Homo sapiens: one gene and its partners. The protein of the gene in region 1 purifies or fractionates together with the protein of each later gene. This does not show direct contact. Each region holds a gene or a part of one and is shown in the gene's direction. Other genes may lie near its edges.

Region 1 (8,744 bases):
ACCTCTTCTCCTGGCACATTTTACTGGCTGGAATCCCAGCTGCTTTGGGTGTGGGGTTGGTGGCCGGGGAGCCTCCGGGTTCAGTCGGCCTGAGGTCTGGAGGGTGGAAGGGGTATCTTAGGGTCCCCTGGGGTGCAGCAGGGCCTGGGCGGCACCCCTGGCTCCCATTCCAGGGCTGTGTCCCGTAAAACTCGTTCCATCCACTTCTGCCTGCCCCGTCTCCTGCTGAGCTTGACGTGCAGTGCGTGGGGTGAGCTTTTCACCCCCTACCACGGGTGGAGCCCGAGGAATCGTGGAGGGAGCTTGGTCTCCCCGAGGTGCTCAGTGAGCTGTGGGGACTGAGGGCGTGAGCTGTGGGGACCGGAGCCCTTCAGGGCCCGGGTGTGACTGAAGGCGTCAGTGTCGGGGGTTTCCCCAGGATACCTGCCATCGGCCTGGCTTGGTTGCGGTTGTGGCTGGGGGGTCTGTGGTGAGCTGTGCAGGTCAGGGGTGGATGGGCTGCCGCTTCCGCTGCCTTCCCCAGACCCCTGCTGTCTCCAGAGCTTGGATGCTCCCCTCAGTGGCAGCTGGAGCCCAGGGCTTTGGACCGACTCTTCATACCGCAGATGCCTCTGAGCACCGTGTGTTCGGGCCGTGTGCACTGTGCCTGGCCTGCGCCCCCACCGAGGGCTGCTACTGGTGTAAGCCGGGGAGGCCGAGGCAGCGTCTGGGTGGGGTTCGCCCGTGGGGGCTGCTTCGTGTCCCCAGGTGCTGTGGTGACTCTGGGAGCAGGGCATCCCTCTGCCGTGATGGGGCCCCTGTTCCACTCCAGGGCTGCCCGCCGTTTGCTGTGCACTCACTGCCCTGTTGGGCTCTCTCTGTGGCTGTGCTGCCCGCACAGAGCCTTGTGTGAGGGCCGAAGAGGAGCCTGTGTCCACCGCTGCCCCCACCGCCGAGTGTGGTGCTTCTGCGTGCAGCCTGGGGCGGCCGCCTCTCTTCCTGGATCAGCAGCACGTCCTTCCTGCAGCTGCTGTCTCTCCTACCTACCCTGCGCCCCCTTCCCTGTGCCCCCTTCCTAGGCCTGCGTTTCTCTCTCCTGTTACTGATGCGGAGACAACACCCTTGTTCTCCTCCGTGCCCCTCCTGGGCGTGCCCGTTTTGCACACGGCTCACAGCGTTATATGGGAACTCGGGTTTTCTGCAGTGCTTGATGGAGCCTTAGGGGTCGGGGGGTCTGGGGCATCTGGCTCTCCCAGCATATGTGTTGGGAGAGTCGCCGGCTTTGCGAAGGCCTGAGAAAGGCAAGGCAGGCCGGGCTGATGAGCAGGAGGGCGGGCAGCTGTCCCGCGGGAACGCAGGCCTTGTTCCCATCAAGACTGCTGGGCCAGGCCCAGCGCGGTGGCTCACGCCTGTAATCCAGCACTTTGGGAGGCCGAGGCGGGCGGATCACGAGGTCTGGAGATCAAGACCATCCTCGCTAACACGGTGAAACCCCGTCTCTACTAAAAAAAGAAATACAAAAAATTAGCCGGGCATGGTGGAGGGCGCCTGTAGTCCCAGCTACTCGGGAGGCTGAGGCAGGAGAATGGCGTGAACCCGGGAGGCGGAGCTTGCAGTGAGCCGAGATCGTGCCACTGCATTCCAGCCTGGGCGACAGAGCGAAGACTCCGACTCAAAAAAAAAAAAAAAAAAAGACTGCTGGGCTCGAAGGCGTGTCCGCCTGGTAATGGGTGGGCTGGTGGGGAAGGGGGCCCCCTGCAGACCTGGCTGGTGGTCCTGGGGAGCCCGTCTGACTCTGGGAGGAAGGAACCGGCCCAGGCCAGGCTTGGGTCTGAGTTCCCGGGCAGGGACCGGGTCCTATGTGCGTCCGCGTGGGTGAGCTCCCCCTCGCCTTCCAGGGTAAGCAGGAAGAGAACGACGTGGTGGAGAAGCTGAACCTCTTCTTGGATCTGCTGCAGTCCTATAAGGTGAGTCTTGGCTGCTCCTTGGCTGGGGGCAGAACTTTCAGGAATGATCTTAGGATCCTTCAAGGGTCTAACTCCTGGGGGACGGAAGAGGAGCTGAGAAGCCAGGGCTGCAGGGGAAGACGGGGCCTTCCGTCTGGCGGGGGTGCTTCCCTCGGCCGGCTCCGCAGGGCCCTGGCGCAGGCATCCAGACAGCGGGCGAATGCCTCCCCCGGCCCCGCAGGACCTGTGCGAGCGGCATGAGAAGGGCGTGTTGCACAAGCACCAGCGGGCCCTGCACAAGTACAGCCTGATGAAGAGGCAGATGATGAGCGCCACCGCGCAGAACCGCGAGCCGGAGTCCGTGGAGCAGCTGGAGTCCCGCATTGTGGAGGTGGGTGGCGGGGCGGCCGAGCAGGCCCGTGGGAGCCTTTCCCCTCCCGGCCATGGTGGGACCCGGAGCCGTCCTGGTGGGCTCCCCTGGGTTGGCTCCTTGTGTCTGGAACAGAGCTGGGGGTGCAGTGGAGGCAGGGAGCTGGCCCGCGTGCCCAGAGCGATGCGGCTCCCTGCACGGTGCTCCCTCCCCGGCCCTCTCTTACCTCGCCACCTTCCAAATGCCTGGTGAAGGCTGAAGGAGAAGGGGCCGCCCTGGCTCAGGGAGCACGCTGGTGTTCGGGCCTTGGTGCTCCCGTCGCCGGCTGGGCCGGGTGCGAAAGGCGGCTGTTTGCTCCGCAGCAGGAGAACGCGATTCAGACGATGGAGCTGCGGAACTACTTCTCCCTGTACTGCCTGCACCAGGAGACGCAGCTCATCCACGTCTACCTGCCCCTCACCTCCCACATCCTCCGCGCCTTCGTCAACTCTCAGATCCAAGGGCACAAGGAGGTGAGTCCGCCCTGCTCCGGCCGCCGTCTCGGCCACGGCCTTTCTTTGTCCCTCCGCCCTTCCTTCAAGCCCGGCAGCGCGGTGGCCGGCCGCCCTAGAGAGGTTCTTTAGTGGAGTTGGGCTCCGCATGGGCCTTGGAACACGGTGCTCGCCCGGATCTTCTAGTCTCCTGTGTAGCCAAAATCAGAATCGTGAGGGTGTCCCTGTGATTCCTGGGGGGCGGAGGGAGGAGCAGACAGGGAGAGTTTGCCTCCTGGAGGGATTTGAGAAGTCGGAGGTAAAGCCCGCAGAGCTCCCGCACCCTGCGGCTGAGAGAAGGTTTCTAGCGCTTCGGAGCGCCGCAGGTGGCTGTTCTTCCAGAGAGCCCTGGCCGGCTTCCTCCAGAGCAGATGGCGGTTCCTTCAGCCTGGGAGAAGAAACGCTCCCAAGGTCCTGGGACAGGCCTCCGTTGATTTCTGGTGGCCAGCTCACTGCAGCACCGCTGGGATTACAGGCGAGCACCTTGTGCCCGGCTGAAATTAAGTTTATTAAGTAGCTGCAAGTAGCTTTCAAGCCATGGTCTGTGGTGTGTGTGGAATGGCACCGAGTGTCTGGGGTGGTCACGAGATTCCACACTGTCCCCGGGAGGTGCTTGGTGCCGTGGGTGCCGTCCAGCACTTTGGGAATGGCAGGCTGGAGGCGGCCGTGGTGGGGCTGGAGAGGCGGTAGACAGCCGCCGTGTTAGGAGCATCACTGTGAGATGGCCAGGGTCTCAGGGACCAGGTTGGACTTGGACATGTGAGTGGCCGGGTGTGTCCTCAGTGAAGGAATGGGACCAACAGGCGCCCGGAGCATGATGCCATAACCCCAGTCCTACCAGGTTTTTTATTGTGGTGGTGAGGAATTTCCAGCCCTGTGATGCTGTGTGCGCTGTGGTCCAGTGACTCAGCCTCCCCTGCAGGCCCCCAGGGTGCGCCCTGCCCTTCTCTGGCCACCTGAGCCCCTGCACGGCAGGTCTTGGCCTGACCCCTGCCTCACTGCCGCGCTCCCCTCCTCACATCCACAGCATCCGTTCCTTGCCCTGGTTCCAAAAGTGCTTGGCGAGTGGGGCCGCCGTTTGCATTCCGGTTTGGGTATTATTGATTTGGTGGATGTGGTCTTTGTGTTTTTGGTTTGCTTTTTGGTTTTGAGGTGGAGTCTTGCTCTGTCACCCAAGCTGGAGTGCAGTGGTGCAATCACAGCTCACTGCAGCCTCAACCTCCCGAGTAGCTGGGACCACAGGCAGGTGCCACCACATCCGACTCATATTTCTGATTTTCTGTGGAGACAGGGTGTCCGTGTGTTGCCCAGGCTGGCCTTGGTGTTTGACCTGCCAAGGCTTCCATGAGGCCAGTGCCCGCACGGCAGCTAGAGCATGTACTGGCAGTGACGCGATAGTAACGTTTCTCACGATTCCACGGCAGGCAGATTTGCAGCCCTTTGGTCCTGGGTGCAGGGATCGAAGCGTGGGTGTCTGTGACCACAGGTCACATGTCGCTGGTCCACTCCTCATTTGGGCTTCCTCTGTGCAGGATGGGCAGCACTGGTTCTGCCAGAGGTTTGAGGAGCTGGCGCACCTGAGGGCCCCTCCCTCCCTGTCACTGGCAGGCGAAGGAACTGGGATCAGAGCGTGAGGAGGAGCCCCGGCCCCGCCTGCTGATCTTGTTCTCTTCGCTTCCCTTTCAGATGAGCAAGGTGTGGAACGACCTGAGGCCCAAGCTCAGCTGCCTCTTTGCGGGACCACACAGCACCCTGACCCCACCGTGCTCCCCGCCGGAGGACGGCCTGTGTCCTCACTAGCGCCTGAGGCTGAGGTGGTGCTCCCTGCGGCCGCACTAAAACCTCTTTCCAAACGGTGTGTCCCGGTGTAATTCCCTTTGGACGGCAGCTCCCCTCCCCGCCACGCCCCGTGCTGCAGCTGGAGCAGAGGAGCTCACGCCTGCGGGTCGGGAGGCGCATCCGTGGACCATGGGGGCAGCTGGGCCACACTGTCCTTCGCCCTGTGGCCTGCTAGCCTGGTCGAGAGAGGTGGTGGGGTTCTCTGGAATGGTTTCCTCCTGACACCCAGAGCTGTGCGGGGAGGCAGGGATCTCTCATCTCACAGAGATTGTGCCTGGGGGAGCGTGGAGGCAGGGCCTCCAGGTGCTGGAACAGTCGGGAGGGGCAGCATCATGGTGCTCGGTCAGCCGAGGAGAGAGGGCAGGGCTGCCCTGCAGCCCAGGCATGGGACTGACCACGGACAGCGAGGGGACAGCCAGTGGTGCTGAGGCTGGGAGGGAGGGCCATTGGGCGTGGGGCACGCACGGTGAATTTTCTAGGGAAATTGCTGCAGTCAACACCTGGAGCCCTGGTCTGGGAGTGGCCTGTGGGGTCCAGTGGCCTCATGCCCTGTGCCCATATGATGACCCCATGTGTGCCTGTGTCCACACCATGACCCTGTGTGTGCCCAGGCCTGGAAGACAAAGGCGTGACGGAGAGCTGGGGCTCTGAGAGTGGGCGCTACAGCAGCTGTGTTCTCGTCCCCTGGACTCCCTTGATTTCTGGTGGCCAGTGTTGGGGTCTGCACCGTGTGGCACTGAGGCTGGATGGGCTGGCAGAGGACAGGTGGGGGCGTGGGGGGGCGTGTTCCATTCCAGCTGAGGCTTTAGAGGAGGGACAGCCCCCTTTTAAGTGGATTTCCTTCTCTGAGGCACCTAGAGCCCTCCTCCCAGCCTCCCGTCACGCACTTGCCGGCCCAGCCACCTGCTCACAGAGGGAACCAGTGGTCTTTCAGGCCCCTTCCCTGCTCTGGATGAAGAAGGCCATTCTCCTGAGCTCTGTGGGGCTGGACTGTCCGCCTCAGGCCTGGGTCTGCTTCTGCCCGAACCCCTTTTGTGGAAGGTACATGGGAGCCCAGTGGACCCCTGCACTTCTCCGGAGCCTGACGCCCCTCCCTGGCCGGGGAGGGGTGCTGGAAGAGGCCCGCCGGGCTCCAGGGTTTCCGAGGTCCCTCCGCTCCGCAGATGCTCACTGGCCTCTGGGGCGTTCACTCCTCTCACGGAGGGTGCTTCCCTTCCGCCTGTACCTACGGGCAGCTCACGGCCGTGGGATGGAGAGGGGACTCCTGTGTGTGCCCCGCAGGCAGGTGATCCATCGTCCACTGCGAGCCGGCCAGAGGGAACGGCCGTGCCTTCTGGCCCCGTGGGCTGTGCTGACTCGGTGGCTGTGGGGCTCGGGCCCAGCCTGCCCTGCCCTGTGGGTTCTGCTGCTGCCTTCCTGCTGTGAGGTGGGCTGCTTCCTTCTGGCCAGATGAGCAGAGGGCAGCGTTCCCTTTGGAGCCCGATGGGTGGGCTGTCCCGTGAGTCCCTAGTCCACCCGAGTCTTGGGCTGCGCTGCCTTCTGACGCCCCTCTGCAGAGACAGGTTCTCAGTTGCCATGAATGGCACCATGACACCCGAGCCATGAAGCGTGACCCCGTGTGGGCAGAAGGCTGCAAGGCCTCTCCGTCCACCCCGCACCTTCCTGGGGCCTGTCCAGCTGCAGGACCATAGAGGCTGTGGGGAGTCGTGGAGGGCATCAGGTGCTGGGGCCTCTGTGTCTCCAGAGTAGGCAAGGCACGCGCTCCTGACAGCCCCCAAGGATTGAGCAAGACTTCAGAATGAGCTTTTCTGAAGGAGCTTTCCTGGCAGGGACTCCGGGGTCAGTGAGTGTATGAGAGGCCACATACCTGGCGGCATCTCCCTGTGTTGGAAACTTCAAGAGCAGGGTCTCAGGGTCCTCATGTCCAGAGGCTGAGGATGGAGGTGGAAGGCTGGAGGGCAGGGGTGAGGAGGGAGCAGGAGGGCAGGAGTTGGGGGAGCAGGAGGGCAGGGGTCAGGAGAACAGGAGAACAGGGGTAAGGGAGGGCAGGGGTGAGGGGGAGCAGAAGAGGGATGAGGGGGAGCAGGAGGGCAGGCGTTGGGACAGGAGGGCAGGGGTGAGAGAGCAAGGGGGCAGGGGTGAGAGAGCAGGAGAGCAGGGGTGAGGAGAGCAGGAGAGTAGGGGTGATGGGGAATAGGAGGGCAGGGGTGAGGAGGGAGCAGGAGAACGGGTAAGGGAGGGCAGGGGTGAGGGGGAGCAGGAGGGCAGGGGTGAGGAGAGAGCAAGAGGGCAGGGGTGAGGAGAGCAAGAGGGCAGGGGTGGGAAGGCAGGAGGGAGGTGGGGGGGCAGGAAGGCAGGGGTGGGAGGGTCAGGAGGGCAGGGTGAAGGGGGGGCTGGAGGGCAGCGGTGACGAGGGCAGCCTGTCTCCCACGTGTGGTGGCTGCTTCCTGTGTGCCCTGGGGTTGGCTCTGTGGAGGGGTGGGCACTGGCTTTGGAACACCTCCCTCCCCTTCCTCCTCTGCCACCCAGTGCCTTCTAAAGGGCAGCAGAAAGAGGCCTGCTAGGCAGGGGTGGCGGAGGCCACCTTCCTTCTCACAAATACTTCTTGGCCCTGGCCCTGTGCTGCCCGGGCAGGTCCCCAGGCTCAGGGGCTGAGAGGCTGCTTACTGCTGCAGGTGGAGGCCCCATGCCGGAGGGAGAGCGGGGTTCCCCCCATGCCTCTCCAGCCCTCCTGCTGCCCACGGCCCAAGCCCAAGCTTGTGCCGGTCATTACGGCCTTGCCTAGCTGGCAGGGACAGCTGCGTGTGATGCTGGTGGAGATGCCAGATGCCGCCTGCCCTGTGAGGACGGCTGGCGGGGCCGTGGGAGGGGGGTTGTGGGCTGGCGGGGCTGTGGGAAGGGGGCTGCCGATCATGGTGAAAGGGGACATTTTCATTGGGTCCTCGTGGTCCGTGTCCTGGGTACTCGGGGTCACCGTGCAGACAGCTGCCCTTTGTCTGCCGGACACAGTGCAGGCAGGGGAGACAGGTTTAGGGCTCTGACATGGGGCACAGGGACTCCGAGCCAAGGGATGTCAGGGCAGCTCTGTGCATCTGAGGCCTTTGCCCTTGCTTTGCGGGTCAGTTCATGTCCAAAGCACTTTAGGAGGCTGCAGGGATCAATACCCAATATACCCAACAACTGGAATTGTTTACACATGACCTACATTTTGGACGGTTTATCAATAAACATGTGTGAACAACTGTTATTAAACGTGTATGAAAGTTGGGCAGGGGAGGGGACTAGCCTATGAGGCGTTCAACCTGGGTTTTAGCCCAGAGCCCTTGGCCGAGCCTCAGCTTCCCACACTGTGCAGGGGGGTTTTAAGAGGACACATCCCCAGCTTGTGGCACTGAGCATGTGTGTCTCTGCCCTGGGCCAGCTGCCCACCTCGGGGACAGAGTCTCCATCCTCTCCCACCTCTGTGCAGCAGTGCGGGCTGAAGCCCAGCACATCTGGTAGCTTCCTGTGGACGGGACCTGGCAGGCTGTGCTGGTGTCTGGAGAAGAACGTTTGAAAGGTTAGAGACCGGCCGGGTGCAGTGGCTCACGCCTGGAATCCCAGCACTTTGGGAGGCTGAGGCAGGTGGATCACCTGAGGTCAGGAGTTCAAGACCAGCCTGGTCAACATGGTGAAACCCCATCTCTACTAAACAGACAAATATTAGTTGGGTGTGGCAATGTGCGCCTGTAATCCCACCTCTTCGGGAGGCTGAGATGGGAGGATCGCTTGAACCTGGGAGGCGGAGGTTGACGTGAGCCGAGATCGTGCCATTGCACTCCAGCCTGGGCAACAGAGAGAGACTCCATCTCCAAAAAAAAAAAAAAAAAACCACCGCTAGATAGCTTTATTTTCCCTTCCATCCAGTTAATTCCAGATGAAACCCGGCTCTGCGCCACTCAATGCCCCCAGGTGAAGATGGTTTGCGGCTGTTCAGCAGCCACGTCTCCTGCCCAGGGGCTGCCCTGGGCTCCCGCTAGACCGTGTCCACCTCGCGGAGTGTGTAGTCCAGGATGGTGTCCTGACCCTGGAACTTGAAGT
Region 2 (11,572 bases), about 74 Mb from region 1:
GCTTTGCAAAGCACTGGTGTCGCAAGAGGCTTTACTGTAGGGGAAATGGGAAGGGTGAGCTGGTGCGGGAGGCCTGGGAGCCCTGGTGTTGGATTAGAGGCCAGCTGCTGGCTTAGCCCCTGGGGAGTGGCACGGGACAAAGCTGGAATGTCCCCTCCCTGTGCTGCCACAGCATCCCATGAAACCTGCATCTAAGGACACCCACGTCCCGTGACACCTGTGTCCCATGACACCTGCCTCCCACGCTCATTGCACACTTTTGTCTTGCAGGACCTCCTCTGTCAGAGAGAGCAGCTTTGTGGAAAAGATGAAGAAAACGGTGAGTTTCCTGCATGTCTTTACTCTTCTCAGGAAGCCTCGGCCCCGATGGGCATGTAATCAAGTCTAGCAGACGGCTGGCGTCACCGCATAGAGGATGTCCCGGTGGCCAGGAGAGGGAACGCAGCCCGGCTCGCTTGGGAGTCATTCTTGCCTAACCAAAGCCCTGAAGCAGCTCTGCTGTTGCTGGGACAGTTTGTTTCCTTGAATCTTTACTTTTTGAACAAACCAAAGTCTAAGAACAGACCCTCCCTCTAACTCACGAAGCTTCTCCCGTCTGGCCCTGGCCTGTCCAGGAGCAGAGGTAAATCTCACAGAGCTGCGGTCGTGGCACCACTGCCATTTTCTCTCCGCTTTGTTTTTGTTACTTTTTTTTTTTTGAGATGGAATCTCGCTCTGTCACCCAGGCTGGAGTGCAGTGGCGCAATCTCGGTTCACTGCAAGCTCCACCTCCCGGGTTCAAGCCATTCTCGTGCCTCAGCCTCCCGAGTAGCTGGGATTACAGGTGCGTGCCACCACGCCCAGCTAATTTTTGTATTTTTAATAGAGATGGGATTTCACCATGTTGGCCAGACTGGTCTTGAACTCCTGACCTCAGGTGATCCGCCCGCCTCAGCCTCCCAAAGTGCTGGGATTACAGGCGTGAACCACCGCACCCAGCCAATTTAACTATTTAATTGTAGGCATCAGTACTACATTTACATAGTTAAAATAAAAACATCCACTATTCAGTGGAAAGCTCCCCTCTGCCACCCACTCATCCCCACTGTTCTTATTATTTATGGATCCTTCTAGAGTTCCTGTATGAACATACAAGTAAAACAAACAGAGACTCTTATTTTTAATTTAAAAAAACCTTTATTTTATTTTAGAGACAGGGTCTCACTGTGTTGCCCAGGCTGGAGTGCAGCGGCGCCATCATAGCTCACTGCAGCCTCAAACTCCTAGACTCAAGCCATCCTCCTACCACAGCCTCCCAAGTAGCTGGGACTACAGGTGCACACCACCACGCCTGGCTAATTTTTTAATTTATTCTTCATAGGAACAGGTTCTCGCTATGTTGCCCAGGCTGGTCTTGAACTCCTGGCCTCAAGCAATCCTTCTGCCTCCGCCTCCCAAAGTGCTGGGACTGTAGGTGCGAGCCATTGCATCCAGCCTACACTTTTCTTAAAACACAAAACGTGGCATACTATGTGCACTGTTCCAGACCTTGCTTTTTTTTTTTTTTTTTTTTTTTTTGAGACAGAGTCTCGCTCTGTCGCCCAGGCTGGAGTGCAATGGCACGGTCTTGGCTCACTGCAACCTTCACCTCCTCGGTTCAAGTGATTCTCCCGCATCAGCCTCCGGAGTAGTTGGGGTTAGACGCCTGCCACCGTGCCTGGCTAATTTTTGTATTTTTAGTAGAGACGGGGTTTCACCATGTTGACCAGGCTGGTCTCAAACTGCTGACCTCGTGATCCATCTGCCTCGGTCTCCCAAAGTGCTGGGATTACAGGCGTGAGCCACTGCGCCCGGCTGACCTTGCTTTAAAAAAAAAAGAACACAAAACAACTTGATATGTCTCAAAGATCCTTCCATATCAATACAAAGATACTGCCATCATCTTAGCTGTACCATGATTCCATTATATGGCCATCTGGATTCACTGTAACGCACTTAACCCTGTCCTATTAAAGATGGGCACTGGGGCTGTTGCTACTCTTTGGCTCTTACCAACAATGTCACTGTGAATATGTAGCTCGGTTTGCACATTTCAAATACAAAGCAGTCCCAGAAGTGGAATTGCTGGATTGGAAGGTAGATGTGTTTGCAATCGTGATAGAAGCTACAAATCGTCCCCGTAGGAGTCACACCGTGGCACGCGCTCAAGAATAGCGACGTGTGAGAAAACTGTTCCCCACAGCCTTGCCAACAGTTTGTTATTAAAGTTTAGATTTTTGTCAGTTTTCTAGGCTTAAAAAAAAAACTCAGTATAGTTGTAATTTACATTTTTATGAATGAGATTCAGTAGATTTTCACCCACCTAGGTCTAGATGGCTTCGTTTCTTTTTCTTTTTTCTTTTCTTTTTTTTTTTTTTTTTTTTGAGACAGGGTCTCGCTTTGTTGCCCAGGCTGGAGTGCAGTGGTGTGATCTCAGCTCACTGCAATCTCCACCTCCCGGGTTCAAGCAATTCTCATGCCTCATTCTCCTGAGTAGCTGGGATTACAGGTGCGTGCTACCATGCCTGGCTAACTTTTGTATTTTCAGTAGAGACAGGGTTTTGCCATGTTGGCCAGGCTGGTCTCGAACTCCTGACCTCAGGTCATCCACTCAACTTGGCCTCCCAAAGTTCTGGAATTACAGGCCTGAACCACCGCACCCAGCCTCTTTTTTCTTTTTTTAATAGATTCTCTCTTCACATCTTTTGCCTGCTTTTCTGTTGGGATTGATCTTTCTCCTTGAAATTATTAGGGAGATGAATCTCTTGTCTGTGATATAAGTTGAAAATATCTTGCCCGTTAAAGAGTTTGTCTTTTAGTGAGATTCCATCTCTTAAAAAAAAGTTTGTCTTTCAACCTAGCTGATCGCATTTTTATTTGTTTTGCTGTGTAAAAGTTACAGAGTCACCTATATGATTCTTTCTTTTCGTGACTTCTGGTCTTAGAGTCATAATTTGAAGGTCTTCCCCATGCTAAAGAGATAAAGATATTCCTGTATTTTTTTTTTCTAGTACTTTTAGGGTTTTGTTTTTCATATTCAAAATTTAAAATCTGATCTATTGGGAATTTATCCTGATGTAAGATGTGAGGTATGAATCCAACTCTACATTTTACATAGCTGTCTAAACACCATGTATTAGAGTCCATCTTTCCCCCACTGGTTTGAAATGCCACCTTTATCATATACTTAATTCCTGGGCTGGGCGCAGTGGCTCATGCCTGTAATCCCAACACTTTGGGAGGCCGAGATGGGCAGGTCGCTTGAGCCCAGGAGTTTGAGACCAGCCTGGGCAACATGGCGAAACCCCATCTCCACAAAAAATAGAAAAATTAGTGGGACACAGTGGTGCGCACCTATAGTCCCCGCTACCTGAGAGGCTGAAGTGGGAGGATAGCTTGAGCTTGGGAGGCACAGATTGCAGTGACCACTGGACTCAAACCTGGGCAACAGCTACACCCTGTGTCAAATAATAATAATAATAGCTGGGTCTCTGGGTTCTTTTCACTGGGCGCAACGTGTTCAAGGTTCACCCACACTGTAGCATATGTTAGTACTTCCTTTTTATTGCCAAATAATGTTTTAATATATGGATTCTTACTTATTTTTCCGTGACTTTTAGGATCAATTTGTTGAGGAAAAAAAAGCTGTTCAGATTTTTTTTTTTTTTTTTGGTAGAGACTGGGTCTCACTCTGTTGCCCAGGCTGTTCTCAAACTCCTGGGCTTAAGCAGTCCTCCTGGTGTGGCCTCCCAGGGTACTGGGATTACAGGTGTGAGCCACTGCACCCAGCTGGTTCAGATTTCTATTACATCATGCCACATTTCTCTAGTGACATAAATAGAGCTGCCATTTTTGTGGGTCGAGACTCCCTGTCCATAATCGGGGTGCTTTTCCATTGGCGTGAGTCCTTTGTGTGTAGTTCAGTAGCTTCTGACACATCTCTTACAAAGTTTATTTCTAGGTATTTTATATATTTTGATGCTCCTGTAAATATTTAGCTGCTATCTTAGGTCATCTTTTGTTCTCTTAACCTGATAATCATGAGCACTTTCTCTTCTATTAAGTATTTTTACGGTGATTATTTTAAAATATCCTTTTGGGCGAAAACCCTGTCTCTACTAAAAATACAAAAATTAGCCGGGCGTGGTGGCATGCACCTGTAGTCCCAGGTACTCGGGAGGCTGATGCAGGAGAATCACTTGAACCCGGGAGGCGGAGGTTGCATTGAGCCAAGATCGCACCACTGCACTCCAGCCTGGCCAACAGAGCAAGATTCCATCTAAAAAAAAAAAAAATCCTTTTGGCCGGGTGCAGTGGCTCATGTCTGTAATCCCAGCACTTTGGGAGGCTGAGACGGGCGGATCACCTGAGGTCAGGAGCTTTGAGACCAGCTGGACCAACATGGTGAAACCCTGTCTCTACTAAAAACACAAAAAATTAGCCAGGCATGGTGACGGACACCTGTAATCCCAGCTATTCAGGAGGCTGAGGCAGGAAAATCGCTTGAACCCAGGAGGCAGAGGTTTCAGTGAGCCGAGATCGCACCACTGCACTCCAGCCTAGGCGACAAGAGCAAAACTCTGTCTCAAGAAAAAAAAAAACAATTTTTAATGATTTAACAATGATTTGTGGAAAATTCAGGAACTTTAAAAAGTATAAGAACATTTATTGTAATCCCTAAGTTTTTTTTGGTGGTGGTTTTGTTTTGAGACTCAGTCTCACTCCTGTCACCCAGGCTGGAGTGCAGTGGCTCAATCACAGCTCACTTCAGCCTCAACCTCCCAGGCTCAAGTGATCCTCCCACCTCAGCCTCCCAAGTAGCTAGAACCATAGGCATGCGCCACCACACCCAGATAAATTTTTTGTATTTTTAGTAGAGACAGGGTTTTGCCATGTTGCCCAGGCTGGTCTCAAACTCCTGGGCTCAAGTCATCCTCTTACCTCGGCCTCCCAAAGTACTAGGATTACAGAAGTGAGCCACGGCACCCGGCCGCGTAAGTTTTATTTTGTATGAGGTGGGATTCAGTGTGAAAACTAGAGACTACTTTAGGCATTTTAATCTGGAAGGGATTTCACACAGGGAAGGGGGTACTTCCAGGTTACTGGAGGGGCTGAAGGAGCAGGTTGGTCTCTAAGATATCACAGAAGCAACCTGCAAGGTAGCTGCTCTGTTCGAATGCAGCCTGAAACTGTTGAGTTCAGGACACACCACGTGTAGCTGTGATCCAGGATAAGAAGCTACTTCTACAGCTGCCTCTGAACATCACATAAGCCAGTAGCCAGGACTAGGAACTTGCAGTCTGGCTACCAAAACTATTAGAAATACCTCAGGTGGCTGGGTGCGGTGGCTCACGCCCGTAATCCCAGCACTTTGGGAGGCCAAGGTGGGCAGATCACCTGAGGTCAGGAGTTCGAGACCAGCCTGGCCAACGTGTTGAAACCCAGTCTCTACTAAAAATTCAAAAAAATTAGCCTAGCATAGTGGTGGGTGCCTGTAATCCCAGCTACTCAGGAGGCTGAGGCACGAGAATTGCTTGAACCCAGGAGGCAGAGGTTGCAGTGAACTGAGATCGTGCCATTACACTCCAATCTGGGCGTCAGAGCGAGACTCCGTCTCACACACAAAAATAAAAAAAAGAAAAGAAAAAAAGAAAAATGCCTTAGGCACTGAAGACCAGGCACTGCAGAGAACCTCACATGTGCATGAGGGGCCAGGAAGCCTTGGCCTCCCTTCCACCCTTCAGATCTTGCAAAGCACGTTCAATTGGCTGAACCGAATTGGCTGCAACTCCAGCCCCAACGGGCTCTGGGGAATAGGATTTCAGGCTTTTCAACAGCTGCTGGAGGAGGAGGGTGGACTGACGAGTATGTGAGCCAGCCCCTAGGACCTTTCCCTGTTGTAAAATTTTATAATGAATATGTATTTAACCAGCAAAACACATCCAGAATGCCCCATTTAGGGACCCTCGGTATATTTCTTGCCAGTCTGTTTTCTTTGTGCCTGTGGGTATAGAAAGAAAATACATATGTATGTTTTGATATACATATCTATTATTTATATAACACAATTGGATTGTATAGCCAGCCCTGCATATCCGTGAGTTCGGAGTTCAAGAATTCAACTGCAGACTGAAAATATTTGGAGAAAAAATGGATTGTTGTGTCTGTCCTGAACACATACTGTCATCTTACTGTTCCCTAAACAATACAGCATAGCAACTATTTACAGAGAATTTACATTACATTAAGTATTACATTAATAAGTAATCTAGAGATGATTTAAAGTATGTTGGAGGATGTGTGTAGGCTACACACAAATACCACATCATTTTATAGCAGGGACTTGAGCATCCTTGGATTTTTGTTTTTTGGGTTTTTTTGTGATGGAGTTTTGCTCTTGTAGCCCAGGCTGGAGTGCAATGGCGCGATCTCGGCTCACCACAACCTCTGCCTCCCAGGTCCAAGCGATTCTCCTGCCTCAGCCTCCCAAGTAGCTGGGATTACAGGCATGTGCCACCATGCCCGGCTAATTTTGTATTTTTAGTAGAGACAGGGTTTTCTCCATATTGGTCAGGCTGGTCTTGAACTCTCGACCTCAAGTCATCCACCCGCCTTGGCCTCCCAAAGTGCTGGGATTATAGGCGTGAGCCACTGGAGGTGGAGTCTTGCTCTGTCACCCAGGCTGGAGTGCAGTGGCGTGTTCTCAGTTCACTGCAACCTCCACCTCCTGGGTTCAAGCTGTTTTCCTGCCTCAGCCTCCCTAGTAACTGGGATTACAGGTGCACGCCACCATGCCCGGCTAATTTTTGTAGTTTTAGTAGAGATGGAGTTTCACCATGTTGGTCAGGCTGGTCTTGAACTCCTGACCTCAGGTAATCTGCCAGCCTCAGCCTCCCAAAGTGCTGGGATCACAGGTGTGAGCCACCACGCCCGGCTGCATCCTTGGATGTAAGTATCTATGGGAGGTCCTGGAACCATTCCCCCACGGATAGGGGCTATACATTTGGTTACTTTTTTTAACTTTGTTTTTTCCCCGTGTCATGAAAATGTCAGAAGTGTGATCTTGAGCAGCCGCGTGTGTGAGATTGCCTTGGTGACCTTTGCCCTCCTTTGCCACAGTGGCTGTGACAGTGAGAAGCAAGTCCCAGAGGAACTTAGAAGGGACTCAAAGCCAGGAAGGAAAGGGGGCGGCCTGGAGGGCCCCCGCCTGCCAGGCCTGCCCAGTGGGTGTTCACCGGAGCCGTGGCTGAGGTCTGTGGCCCTCACCAACCCTGTGTCTGCCTTCCTTAGGGGAGGAACATCATCGTGTTCTACGGCTCCCAGACGGGGACTGCAGAGGAGTTTGCCAACCGCCTGTCCAAGGACGCCCACCGCTACGGGATGCGAGGCATGTCAGCGGACCCTGAGGAGTATGACCTGGTAAGCTGCCACCGCGTGCTGGCCCCAGATGGAGGCAGTGGGTAGGACAGGGAGCAGGTCTGTAGGGCGCCCCTCAGCAGGGGGAGGCCGGCAGGGAGTGGGGTCCTGGGAAGACGTCCTCGGAAGTTGCCTTCCCGTGAGGGTCATTGCCATCCCTGCCCGGGCTGACTGACGGAAGGGCCATTCCTGCAGTTGCAGCCACGTGCCAGGCATCGTTTCCCCAGGACTGGCCCTCCCCTGAGTGCCGGCTGCCCTCCTGGCGGCCGCCACATCTCCCAAACCAAACCCACCCTCCCCAGCTGCTCCACTCCCCTCTCCTTCGAGGTCTTGGTGACGGGCACTACCCCACAGCCCTCTCCAGGCTGCATTTGCAGTTGATGAACAGTTTAGTTAGATATCAGTGTGCACCGGGGCTGTGCGGTGCCTGGGAGCTTTGGAATGAGGTTCCCAGGGTGGCCCCAGACCTGCATCAGCTCAGGAGGCTGCATTCTGATGGCTCTTTTGTGCCAAGCTTCACTTTCCTCTAGAAACACATCCTCTCCGCTCCAGCCTAACACGGGTGACCTTGTCCTGCCCACCTGGCACAAATGCCCATGCCCCAGCCCCTCCGTGTTGTTACTTCTCTCTGATCCCACGACACTCAGACATCCCTGGCCTGGTGCCACCCTGGGCAGGACCTGGCCTTCCCCATCTGGTGCGGGTTGAACCTTGAACAGGCTCAGTCATGGCCGGGGCGCGGTCCTGTCCCTGTTTCTGCAGGCCGACCTGAGCAGCCTGCCAGAGATCGACAACGCCCTGGTGGTTTTCTGCATGGCCACCTACGGTGAGGGAGACCCCACCGACAATGCCCAGGACTTCTACGACTGGCTGCAGGAGACAGACGTGGATCTCTCTGGGGTCAAGTTCGCGGTGAGTCACCCAGAGACTGCTATGGGCTCCCGGTGGCCTGCGGTGCCTCCCTGGGGACTCCAGATCCATGTATCTGAAAGGCAGCCCTCCAGACCCCCACCCTGTCCTCAGCAGCCAGGGCAGGCCACTTGTGAGACCCTCTCCTCTGCCCCAGACCCCAGCACTACGAGAATGTCCCCTCCCTGTCCCCAGCCCCAGTCGGCTCCAGGGGGCATTGGGTGCTGGAGACTAAAGGCAAGAAAGGTCTGGCTGGACGACTGAGACCTGCCTGGCCTCGGAGAGCTGGAGCCCCAGCCCGGTGGGGAGGGTGGGCTGGCCCCGCTTCCCTGTGGGTTGAGGCTGGCAGTGGACGGGGCAGGCTGTGGGCTGCAGGTCAACCAGATGAAGCCTCTTCAGTGGCCCAGTGTTCCTTGCAGTGCGAGGCGCCTGGTGGAACGGAGGCCTGCAGGTGTTGCCAGCAGCTCAGCCAGTGCTGTGGGGCCTCCCGCCCTGCCCCCATGGCCCCTCCCACTGGTCAGGTCGAGGGCCAGGCCTCAGAGCGGCCCCTGTGTCCACGCAGGTGTTTGGTCTTGGGAACAAGACCTACGAGCACTTCAATGCCATGGGCAAGTACGTGGACAAGCGGCTGGAGCAGCTCGGCGCCCAGCGCATCTTTGAGCTGGGGTTGGGCGACGACGATGGGAAGTGAGTGCCCACCCTGCCACCATGATCAGCGCGGCGGGCTTAGGCAGGGGCCGTGGAACGTGAGGGGCGCGCACACCATTGTGTCAGCTGAGACTCAGCGACACGCACCTCCAACACAGAGGGAAGGGGCTCTCCTGCCTCTGCCCTGCCCCTGCCAGTTTTGCTTTTCGGCTTGCCCAACTCCCTGGAGCCTTCCTGATGCTCTGGGTTTATGTCGCTGGGTGCCCCAGGGTGCACAGTCCTGAGCTTTGGGGATGGGGTGGGGTCGGGGCGTGCCTGGCACCAGGTACCGTTGCCACATGGGCCTCCCCTGAGCCGCTCCCCCTCTCCTCTCCTCGGCCCAGCTTGGAGGAGGACTTCATCACCTGGCGAGAGCAGTTCTGGCCGGCCGTGTGTGAACACTTTGGGGTGGAAGCCACTGGCGAGGAGTCCAGGTGAGCAAGTGCCCGCAGGTGCGGTGGGTGGCCTGGGCGGGTCCTGTGCCGAGGGCAGCCACCCTGGAACAAGGGCTGGCAGTGGGTCGCAGCAAGGTTAGAAGACACTCCGTCATAGGGTCGAGGAGGGACCTTGGTCCCAGCCAAGGACTCACTCTGCCACGTTGCTCTGCACTGCCCTGGGGCAGCGGGGTGCATCCCACCTCTCGACAAGGACACATCGCGTCGGGCTCTGTGGCTAGGTTCAACTTTGGCAAAAGGGCTCATTTCCTTAAAATCTGCCTCCACAGACTTGGCCAAAAACATAACGTTCCTCTCTGTGCCCTTGATGGCCCCTGGGTGCTGCCCGGGCTTCCTTACCTTCTCCCAGATGGAAGCCTGCCCAGCCCTGCCCCGGCTTCTGGGCGTCTGGCCCCCGGCAGCTCCACGCCGCCTCCCTCCTTGCTCCCTCGCCTGCCCTCCTTGTGCATCTGCAGCAGGGGCTCCCCTGCTTCTTGTCGTATGTACCTGGGACCTCACCCCAAAGGCCATGCACGGTCTCCCCTGTAGTCCAACCCCTCCCTCTCGGGACTGACCCCTGCCGCTTCCCGGCCTCACCCTTGGTCTCCCCTTTCCAGCATTCGCCAGTACGAGCTTGTGGTCCACACCGACATAGATGCGGCCAAGGTGTACATGGGGGAGATGGGCCGGCTGAAGAGCTACGAGAACCAGAAGCCGTGAGTGGAGGGAGCGTGGCTTGGGGCAGACGGCTCTATGGCCACTGGTGCACCCCAGGCTCAGTCTGCCGTGTATCCCCATATCCCCACAGGGCCCTTCTCACCAGACCCCGTGCCCCGAGTGGGTGTGAGTGTCCACGACCTGTCCACGGCCCGGCCCCAGGAGACTGGCACTCGCCCAGTTTGTACTGAGCTCACTTAGCCACCTTACTCTGCACTGCCCAGGGCAGCGGGGCACATCCCACTTCTCGACTAGGACAGTGCATTGGCCTCTGTGGCTAGGATCCTCTTTGGCAGAAGGGCTCATTTTCTTAGAATCTATCTCCATAGATAGACTTGGGGGAGAAACCTGGCGTTCCTCTCTGTGCCCTTGATGGCCCCTGGTTGCTGCCCAGATTCCTGCCCGAGCCACCCAGGGAAGTCCTCGTGCCACTGCATCCAAGACCAGCTGCCCTGCTTTCTGTAGGCCTGCCCCAGCCTGGCTGGAGCGAGAAGCCCTGCATGTCGGTGGCTTTCCGGAGTGCAAGTTTCTCTCTTGTCCACGGTGTAGTCCAGGACGTGTGGGGGTGGGGGAGCTGTGCTCCTCATTTGGGGACCAGCCACCTTCCAGCCTGTGGCACCGTCAGCTTGGGCCTCACAGTTCTTTTAGGGGCCAGCCTCAGTTTCCACATCTGTAAACAGACACTGATGACCCAGCTCTGCCCATGTGGTGGGACTATAGAGAGAACTGCATTAGGGCTGGGCGAGGTGGCTCACAGCTCTAATCCCAGCACTCTGGGAGGCCGAGGTGGGTGAATCACCTGAGGTCAGGAGTTCAAGACCAGCCTGGCCAACATGGTGAAACCCCGTCTCTAGTAAAAATATAAAAGTTAACCAGGCATGGTGGCGAATGCCTGTAATTCCAGCTGCTCAGGAGGCTGAGGCAGGAGAATTGCTTGAACCTGGGAGGCAGAGGTTGCAGTGAGCCGAGATCGCGCCGCTGCACTCCAGCCTGGGTGGCAGAGCGAAACTCTGTCTCAAAAAAAAAAAAGAGAACTGCATTGGACCAGGCTGGGAGAGCCCTTGATGTAACCGGTGAGATTTCCTCATGGAGATCTCTGAGATTCCCTGTGCTTTGTGCAACCAGAAGCGTCCTTGGAGACGGAGACTCAGATCAAAGCCCCGGCCGCTCACTGTGCTTCTCTCCTCCCCACCCAGCCCCTTTGATGCCAAGAATCCGTTCCTGGCTGCAGTCACCACCAACCGGAAGCTGAACCAGGGAACCGAGCGCCACCTCATGCACCTGGAATTGGACATCTCGGACTCCAAAATCAGGTACCAGCTGCCACTGTCACCCCCTGAACCCTCACTCTGGGCCTCCTGACCTGGGGCAGGGCCAGCCTTCCGCCCCTC
Region 3 (9,101 bases), on another chromosome or scaffold:
ACTGAGGAAGAGAGCTACTCTCATCTGTAGAAAAGCCCTGACAGTTTCTCTCTTTAACTCAAAATGCCTATATCTAGTTGCTTCCCTTTGAACATCACTGTCTGCATCTTCCTAGGTGCCTGAAAATCATTATGTCAAAAACTCAACATTTTTTTCCTAAAGTCTTCTCTGCCAGTTAGGTTTCCTGTTTTAATTATTGATATCCTACCCACTTACAGATAGAAACTTGATGTCTTCATTCTGTACTTCCCATAACCACATATTCAGTGGGTTACCTGTAGAGGCTGAACCTGTCACCTAAGTCCTTCTTGCTTTCATCATCTCCTTTTATCTGTAAAAATTGATCCCTTCACCTGAGTGCCTACCTTTTGAAGGGTATGAGTATGGAGTGCTTAAGGAAGGTGTAAGGGTACTCATTATTGGCCAACCATATCAGCTGAATCAAACCCAGATATAGGGAATAAAGGAAAAATGCAATATTCTTAGCTTTCTGTCTTTGGCAACAAGAAGGTAGCATAAGTAAAGAAGATGGTTTTATCTTAGAACACTGTAAGATGCAAGGCAGATAAGACAAAGATGGCAAGGGAACGATAGTCTGGGCAAGTGGGAAGGGAGTAAAAAGAGGCTGTTAATTGAAATATAATAGATATATTTTTGTAAAAAGGGAGAGATGAAAACTGCAAAACATTGCTGAAGGACATTAAAGAAGACACAAATAAATGCAGAGAAATTCTGTGTTCATGGATTAGAAGTTAGAGAAACGCAAATCAAAACCACAGTGAAATATCACCCCACATCCATTAGGATGGCTAATATTTTAAAACCTCAGAAAATAAGTGTTGTTGAGGATATGGAGAAGTTGAAATCCTGGTGCACTGGTGGTGGGAATGTGAAATTGTGTAGCCACTATAGAAAACAGTATGGCAATTTCTCAAAAAATTATAAATAGATTACCATATAATCCAGAAATTCCTCTTCTGGAAGTATATCCAAAATAACTGAAATCAGGAACTCAAAGAGATATTTGCACACCAATGTTGATAACACGATTATTCGCAATAGCCAAAAGGTGAAAGCAATCTAAGGTACATTGGTAGATGAATGGATAAGCAAAATGTGTGTGCATACAATGGAATATTATTTAGCTTTAAAAAGGCAGGATATTCTGACACATACTACAATATAGATGAACCTTAAGGACATTATGCTAAGTGAAATCAGTCAGTCACAAAAAGATAAATACTGTATTGATTTCACTTATATGATATACCTACAGTAATCAAATGTACAGGAACTGGAAGAAGAATGGTGATTGCCAGGGGCTGGTAAAAGGAAGAAACAAGGAGTTATTGTTAATAGTTGTAGAGTTTCCATTTTATCAAATGAAAAAATTCTGGAGATTGGTTATACAACAATGTGAGTTCAACACTACTGAACTGTATACTTAGAATAGTATTTTTTTGTGGTTATAATAGTAAATTTTGTGGGTTTTTAACCACAATCTTTTAAAATGTGAAAAATAGAAGACTAAGAAGCTATGATCTCAGTGGAAACTAAAAGTATAGAGCATCTTTAAATGGAAGATGAAGAAAACTCCCATTACATGTCTCTTCTGTGTCAGGTGCTTTGTGTAGTATGGCTCATTTAAAAACCACATGATAATGTAATTTATTATTTCTGGACTTTGAAAAATATACAAACTAAATCTGCTCACTTTTAACTTAGACATAAATTCAGGTGAAATTTTTTATGTTTTGACTTCTCTTATCTCTTTTTATTCCTATTTACCAGGTTGGAAAGGTACTTTGTTGGGTGTTGCTATGGCTACAGTGAATGCTATGATAGCAGAATATGGCTGCAGTTTGGAAGACATTGTTGTTGTACTTGGACCTTCAGTAGGACCTTGCTGTTTTACTCTTCCAAGGGAATCAGCAGAGGCATTTCATAATCTTCATCCTGCATGTGTACAACTATTTGATTCACCAAATCCCTGTATCGACATCCGTAAAGCCACAAGGTATGTCTGATTTCATTCAACTGCAAGTTTGATTATTTCTGATTGTTCTAAAATGAAATTTATTTTGGAGAACAATTAATAACTCTAAGAAGAATTTAGGTGGTGGTTATTTAAGCAGCTGACATGCACATGTACACAAACACTCATTTTAAATATGAAATCTGTTTTCATTTGAGTTTGAATAACAGAAATTTTCCTGTCTGGTATCTTTCATTGATTTAAAAGTGAAGGAAGAAATATTTGGCATTTAATTTTAAGAGATCTACTTAAACTTCATATAGAAAAGTTGGCGTGTACTTTACTTCACAGCCATTCCTCAGCTAAATTCTCCTAAATGTAATGAACTATCAGGAAGCTGATATTTTAAAATTATTCTTATTATCTAATTAACTAGAGGAATATGTTTTTTAGAAAAAATATTAGATAATATAAATACACGGTTTTTTACTTTTAAGTTTTTTACAGTTCTTCGCATCTTTTAATTTACAAGGTTTTGTTATTAATAACTGGTGAAAATTATTTGTCATTACTACAAAGGCAAATTAATGTATGTTTTAAATCATGTTTCTATTCCAGTCGCCAAAACTTTACCCAGAGTCTGCCTCATTTAGTACAGATGTGGAAAAGTTTGAAATTGATTCTTAAATGTGACTTTTAAAATCAAGTATCACTAACTTGTAGTCATATTTCATATCATAAAGTGTTCATGGAGAAGCAAGTTTTCTGAGAAAAATCTGGCTAATAGAAGGAAAGGAGATGAAGGGCCAGATGACTAAAAAGCATACTCTGGCTGAGCCAGGTGAATTTTGCCTGATATCCTGGTAACTTTTGTAGACATTTCTTCTTAAATAAGCACTTGATTTTGATTATAAAATTCTGTACCTAGATTATGTCTATAAGACAATATGGAAGGTTGTACTGTGCATATATGAACTTAGGTGATAAATGCTGATAAAGTGTAGCATTTTTTTCCCTGACTAGTCCATGTTCTGTAAGTGAATAACAATATACATTGTTCTAGGTACATCTTTCCTGGAACTTTTTCATGCCAACATCCATACTTTTTTTCATATTGCTTTGGCTATTGGGAAAATAAACTCTTGCTCTCTTTTGAAAAATATTTTTCCTAAGGATTCTTCTAGAACAGGGAGGAATTCTTCCACAGAATATTCAGGACCAGAACCAAGATCTCAACCTCTGTACATCTTGCCATCCTGACAAGTTTTTCTCCCATGTCCGAGATGGCCTTAATTTTGGTACACAGATTGGCTTCATATCAATTAAAGAATGAGGTACAGTAGGTTTTCTCTCCTCTCTCCGTTTTTCCTCTCTTTCATCCCTCTCTCCACTTCTCCCTCCCTTTCTCTTTCTTCCTCTTTTAGCCTATTCCTCCCCTTATTTAAAAAAAAAAAGTTAATTATGTTAAACTTTACTCCTTTATTCCTACAGGGAGAATGATGTTTCTACTTTTTTAGTGATGTAATAGTGGTAGCAACGTTCATTTCCAATAACACTCTATTATGAAGAGCAGCCACTCCTTTTCCTAGTTAATGAAGAATAATTAGGCAGGCTTATGTTAAAAGTATAAAAATAAAACAATTTAATCTTTAAAAAGGTATGTAAGTATTTCCTTTCTCTCTACTATGTACTTGATATCTGTACATTCCCTATCCTCACATCCTTATAACTTTCATGTTATTTTTGAAAACAAATCTTTGCATAAACATTCTGAATTCTAGAATCATAAGAAATTCTCACAAAGAAACTAGCTTGATTTTCAACTAGATTTCCAAATGATTATCTGCAGTTGGAGTTGCCCAAATTTTTATTTTAAAATGACAGTAAGTAGTTTAGACTTTGTGGGACATACAGTATATCTCAGCTACTCAGCTTCGCCATTGTAGAGGTAGAGCAACAAGAGATACTGACAACATAGAGATGAATGAATATGTCCGTGTTCCAATAAAACTTTGTTTACAAAAATCAGGCGAGGGAGCCAGGCACAGTGGCCCTGCTCCTGTAGTCCCAGCTCCTCGGGAGGCTGAGGTGGGAGGACTGCTTTAGGCCAGGAGTTTGAGTACAGCATGGATAACATAAACCCTGTCTGTAAACAGTAAAATAAACAGGTAAGGGGCCAGATTTGGCCTATAGGCTATAGTACACTGACACATGATCTAAAGTCATACAGCAAGACTGAGTGTAATTTTCTTAAAATAGTATTTATTAGAGATGGTTTTGTTGGAATTATACAAAAATATTTCATGGCACTGATTTAGCACTGCCCCTATAAGATATGTGTAATTTTCCCTAAGGTTACTTCTAGCTGAATTAATATTATTTTTTACTCTTTACAATGTTTTTAGCTCTTTAACTTACAGAAAAACTTTAATAGACTTCATGACTCTTACCTTGATATTCTAATAACACCAGTAAGCGTCTCATATTTGATTTCTATGTATTTTACAGATACTTGACTGGATTTTTGTATAACTGCTTCCTGCCTCCTTCCAAACTGACTGCAAGAGAGAAATTTAGCTGTTTGATTTACTTAAAACCAAATGGATTACAATGGATAATTCATCTTTTGGGTATATTTTTACTATTATTCAAAGCCAAATGATTTTCATTTAATTGTAATAATAACTGACAAAAATCAGTATGTTGTAGCTAATATGTTTTATGCATGAGAATTATTCTTAAAGTTTGTTCTCCCTGTTTATTACACAGATCAGGAATAGATTTGTTCAGTTCAGTATTTATTGGATACCCTCTATTGGTCAGGCATTGTGTTAAGCATATGTGAATCAAAATGAACACAACTTTTTCCTTTGAGTCTGATACAGTGAAGGAGATAAACACTTCTACAACTTAAATTTAATTTTAATAGCAGTAGAAGAGAACATAAGGAATAGAGGTTAATTTTACCCAGAAGCAGGATAGAGAAAATATTACAGAGAAAATCACATATCACATGGGCTCGAAAGATGTAGAGGTTTTTGACAAATGAAGAACAACCATAACAGGTAGAGGGAACACCATGAACCAGGGCATGAAACTGAAAGTGCATAACATATTCTAGAGAGAGAAGGGTGTGGGCATGAGTTAGGGCTGGAAAAACAGGTTGGAAACAGATAAGTAAGGGTCTCAAATGCAATGTCAAAGAGCTTGCAGTTTATTTTCCAGGCAATGAGTAGGCAGCCAAAAAAAAAAAAGTAAGGATGTTTTTTTTTTTTTTCCCATGGCATCATATTTAAGAGGATGGATTTAAATTGTGTGAGACCAAAGCATAGAGACTAGATAAGAGGCGATCAAAATATTTCAAAAAGAAATAATGAAGATCCAATGAAGGAAGTGGAAATTAAAATAGGGAAGAGAGTAGATGGATTAGAGAGACATTTAAGAGATGGAATCAATAGATCCTGTTACTAGATAATGGAAGTAAGAGGTGAGGAAGAGTGGAAAAGTCATTAATGACTCTAAGATTTCTGCTTGGCTGCTTACCAAGATTGGCAACAAAGGGAGGGAGAAGGTTTGGAAAAAGAGAGAAGGATAATGAGTTTGACTTTACATAGAATGAAGGGCATCCAGATAGAAATCTTTGGTTAATAATTAGAAATATAGACCTAGAAATTAGGAGGAAACCTGAGACAGAGACAAATATTTCAAAGCTTACAATACAGAGATGATACCTGATTCTATTGGAGCAGGTTTGATCATCTAGGCAGAAATTAGGATGAGAAAAAAGGAGATCCAATAATACAACCTTATAGTCACAGAAGTAAGAAAAAAAGGGTAGTTGTTTTGAAGAAGCCAGGATAGGTGTGGAAAGTACTCAAAAAGAAATCTTCAGGGATAAAATAAAGTGATAATTTAAAAGAAATCAATGGATTAAACATATTGAAACTGTTCTATAGGCAGTGGTCATTGAGTCAGCTTTCAGTGCATTAGGAAGAAGATGCATAGGTGTCAACTCTTTTCTGACAGCATTTACTAGAGAAGAGAAAAAGCTGGGGACTACATCTTCAAGGAAGGGACTTTTTTTGGATGAGCAGTTTTGAGTGTGTTTGTCAGTTAAAGAGAGGAATTAGGTTAGTTTTCATTTGGGAAAAATTGTATATATATTTAATGTAAGTTATCACATTGCATCTTAAAAATATTCTTATTTAATACATATATTTCCTACATGTATATGTGGTAGCATGATAGCAAATAACATTTGTTTGGTATTTCCAAAGGACTTTCATGTACATTGCCTCATTTTACCTTTACAGCTACTCTGAAATACACAGGCATTATCCCTTTTATTCAGCTGAGAAAACTGAGCTTCATTGAGGTGGAGGTCAAAAATCACAAAATTTGTGATGAATTAAGATTTGAACATATGTTTTGTGACTCCAGTTTTCCTTTCAGATTTTAAAATTAATTAAAGGGATCTTCATTATACTTTTATTGTTAACTTTTTGTTAACATAATTTATTCATACATTCAGTGAAAATTTTGTTGAGGTACTGGGACAGGTTAAAAAATACAGTTGTAGCCCTCAGGATATTTAATATCCAGTGAAAAGTGACAGTCAGTAAACCAACAATCTCAATACTTTGATATATGTTGTGAGGTTGTGATAACCGATTCTTGTTTAGTTTAATTCTATATCTCCCTTAGACCAGTGTTAAATTTAAATAAAACACCTCATTTTTTCCAATTCAGGGAAGGCACTAAACATAAAGCATAGGATAGAAATGTTGAACTCATCCAAAATATTATTTTGTTTAATGAAAATGATGAAGATTAAGGAATACTTCCATGTATTGAGTAAGGTTGATAATTTTCTAATTCTTCACTGTGCATTATTTTGTTTGAAGTTGGTAAATTTGGAGTATCCTGCAGACACATTTTGCTTTATGTACTACAACATTCTACAACCAAATAAAAATTATTTTGATTATCTGATTTTGGATTATCTCTGCCAAAGTATATAATGAAAGGTTGTCTCCTTGCTGCTTTACTGAATGAAAAGTGTTGATTTAGTAACTCCAAACTATCAGGTTATTAAATAATCATCTTATTGTGTCTACAAGATAGCTGTCACTCTCACATATTTGTATGTAGGTTTCTAGGACTTTTGGGGTACAACAACAAAGATTTCTAGTAAGTTTTGTTTTTGTTTTTAATTTTATTTTAAATTTATAAATAACAATGGTACCTATTCATGAGATACATAATAATGTTTCCATTCATATAATGTACAGTGATCTGACCAAGGTAATTAGCATATCTATCATTTCGAACATTTTTCTTTGTGTTACGAACATTTAATATGTTCCTTCCAGCTATTTCAAACTATATAATATACTATTGTTAACTATAGTTATCCTACAGTGGTATAGAACACTAGAACTTATTCCTCTTAAAGTTTTGTTTTTAATCTAAGCACTGCTACTAACTGCACATAGGAAATATTGATTGCTATTTTATTAATAAGGGGAATTAAGTTTGTAAGTCAAATAAACATTAATGAAATACCTTTTTGAAAATACTATCAAACTAAAACTTACTGGGCCATTTATCCAACTGTAATTTTAAATTGTGAAAAATAGCACAGTGGCCAAATATGCTATACCCCAGTGCTTTATAAAACAAATAAGATGACCTTACCACTAGGAGGTGGTATTTCAACAAGTAGCTCTACTATTATTTCTTGGTATAAAGTTGAACTAATCTTTTTTTTTTTTGAAAAAAATCAACTTTATTTTTTCTAGGTTTAAAAAAATAGAACCAGCTATTAATTTTTGTTGAGAAAATGCATCTTTTGGTGTTCACATCTAAATTTCTGAAAAGGTGATCTGGTTACTAAAATCATCCCAAATACATTCATAAACCAGATCCACGTGTGACCAGCCCTTTACAAAAATTAATTACAGTTGCCACAGCCTTTACATTCATTCTTATCACACGTTACAACATGCAGATAACACAAAGAAAGGTCAACAAGCTGAAGTAAACATTACAGCATCAGGAAAATGAAAACCCATCTGTATAAAATAAATACAATTTTGTAATAACTGTAAAGAAAATGAAAGCACTTAATAAAAATAATGGCAGTTGAATGTATAACTGTCTCATCTCCCAATCATAAAATAAGTTACTGTAAAATGCATAGACTCCTTACACTTAAAGAATTTGTGCATCACAGTCATGTGAAGTTGAACTAATCTTAAACTCTGTATTTTCTTGTGGAATAAAAAGGGAGGGGAGGACGCATTTAAAGTTAGTGAATGTATTGCTCTTACTTTAGGTATAACGTGGTAGTTCAAGTAGATAAAAGCATTTAGGAACCCTCACCCACTTCTATCTCACTCCTACAGAATCTCTAGTAATTGCTTTTCTGTAAGTAGATTTTTGGGAGAAACTCAGAGAAGCTTATTCTATGTAACATGACAAAACAGAAATAATATCTATATATTCAGCAGCTGGAAGGAAAGATAACAGTGACATACGAGTTATATGCTTTTATATCTCAAAGTGGGATTTGATATTTATTTTTACTTGATTGTCCTAGAGTTATACTTCCAATGTATCCATCTTACTTTTTGTGTGAACTCTTAGAGAATGCTACCAATCTATGAAAGTTCAGCACTTTAAAGAAAGCATTACTCAGTTATTGTGTGTTATCGTGTTTGTATGCATGAGTCTTTGTGTATGTGCTAAATGGCAAATAAGAAATATGTGTGTTAAATATGACACATAGCCTTTTTGCCCTAGCTAATATAAATTAACACACACATAACACATTGGATGCAGTAGAATAATAGATTTCTCTCTATAGATTTTTTAATAAATTATGCAGTAAAGAATGGAAAGCATGGTCCATATGCTTACTGGATGTGTTTGTGTGAACCCTGATCTAGGGCACGTGCATTTCCATTGTAGGCAGTGTTTTTAAAGTTTACTTGTGATTTCAAAGATTGCCATAAGCAATGCATTGTTCTGTGCTAGGTCATTGCTTAATGAAGAAAAAAGAAATCTGCCAGTACTGCTTTTTCCAGATTAACACGTTTGGTTTGAAGTCACAGTGATTACATGT

The links.
Region 2: the proteins of SNX8 (region 1) and POR purify together in Homo sapiens (co-immunoprecipitation; 3 studies listed by BioGRID and IntAct, with this or other methods). This does not show direct contact.
Region 3: the proteins of SNX8 (region 1) and LACC1 purify together in Homo sapiens (affinity purification with mass spectrometry; 2 studies listed by BioGRID and IntAct, with this or other methods). This does not show direct contact.

What each region holds. Positions count from the first base shown.
Region 1 is NC_000007.14:2,250,937-2,259,680, reverse strand, and holds the end of SNX8 (sorting nexin-8), read left to right. Parts: intron 1-1,877; coding exon 1,878-1,946; intron 1,947-2,103; exon of another isoform or gene 2,104-2,166; coding exon 2,167-2,316; intron 2,317-2,657; coding exon 2,658-2,807; intron 2,808-4,511; coding exon 4,512-4,625; 3' UTR 4,626-7,911; downstream 7,912-8,744. Other genes in the region: NUDT1 (oxidized purine nucleoside triphosphate hydrolase), read right to left, coding at 8,680-8,744. UniProt on the Homo sapiens protein: May be involved in several stages of intracellular trafficking. May play a role in intracellular protein transport from early endosomes to the trans-Golgi network.
Region 2 is NC_000007.14:75,972,143-75,983,714, forward strand, and holds part of POR (NADPH--cytochrome P450 reductase), read left to right. Parts: intron 1-270; coding exon 271-319; intron 320-7,308; coding exon 7,309-7,437; intron 7,438-8,196; coding exon 8,197-8,346; intron 8,347-8,905; coding exon 8,906-9,030; intron 9,031-9,374; coding exon 9,375-9,464; intron 9,465-10,081; coding exon 10,082-10,180; intron 10,181-11,377; coding exon 11,378-11,494; intron 11,495-11,572. UniProt on the Homo sapiens protein: This enzyme is required for electron transfer from NADP to cytochrome P450 in microsomes. It can also provide electron transfer to heme oxygenase and cytochrome B5.
Region 3 is NC_000013.11:43,886,966-43,896,066, forward strand, and holds the end of LACC1 (purine nucleoside phosphorylase LACC1), read left to right. Parts: intron 1-1,791; coding exon 1,792-2,017; intron 2,018-3,148; coding exon 3,149-3,308; 3' UTR 3,309-3,309; exon of another isoform or gene 3,310-3,314; intron 3,315-4,483; coding exon of another isoform or gene 4,484-4,637; 3' UTR 4,638-6,967; downstream 6,968-9,101. UniProt on the Homo sapiens protein: Purine nucleoside enzyme that catalyzes the phosphorolysis of adenosine, guanosine and inosine nucleosides, yielding D-ribose 1-phosphate and the respective free bases, adenine, guanine and hypoxanthine.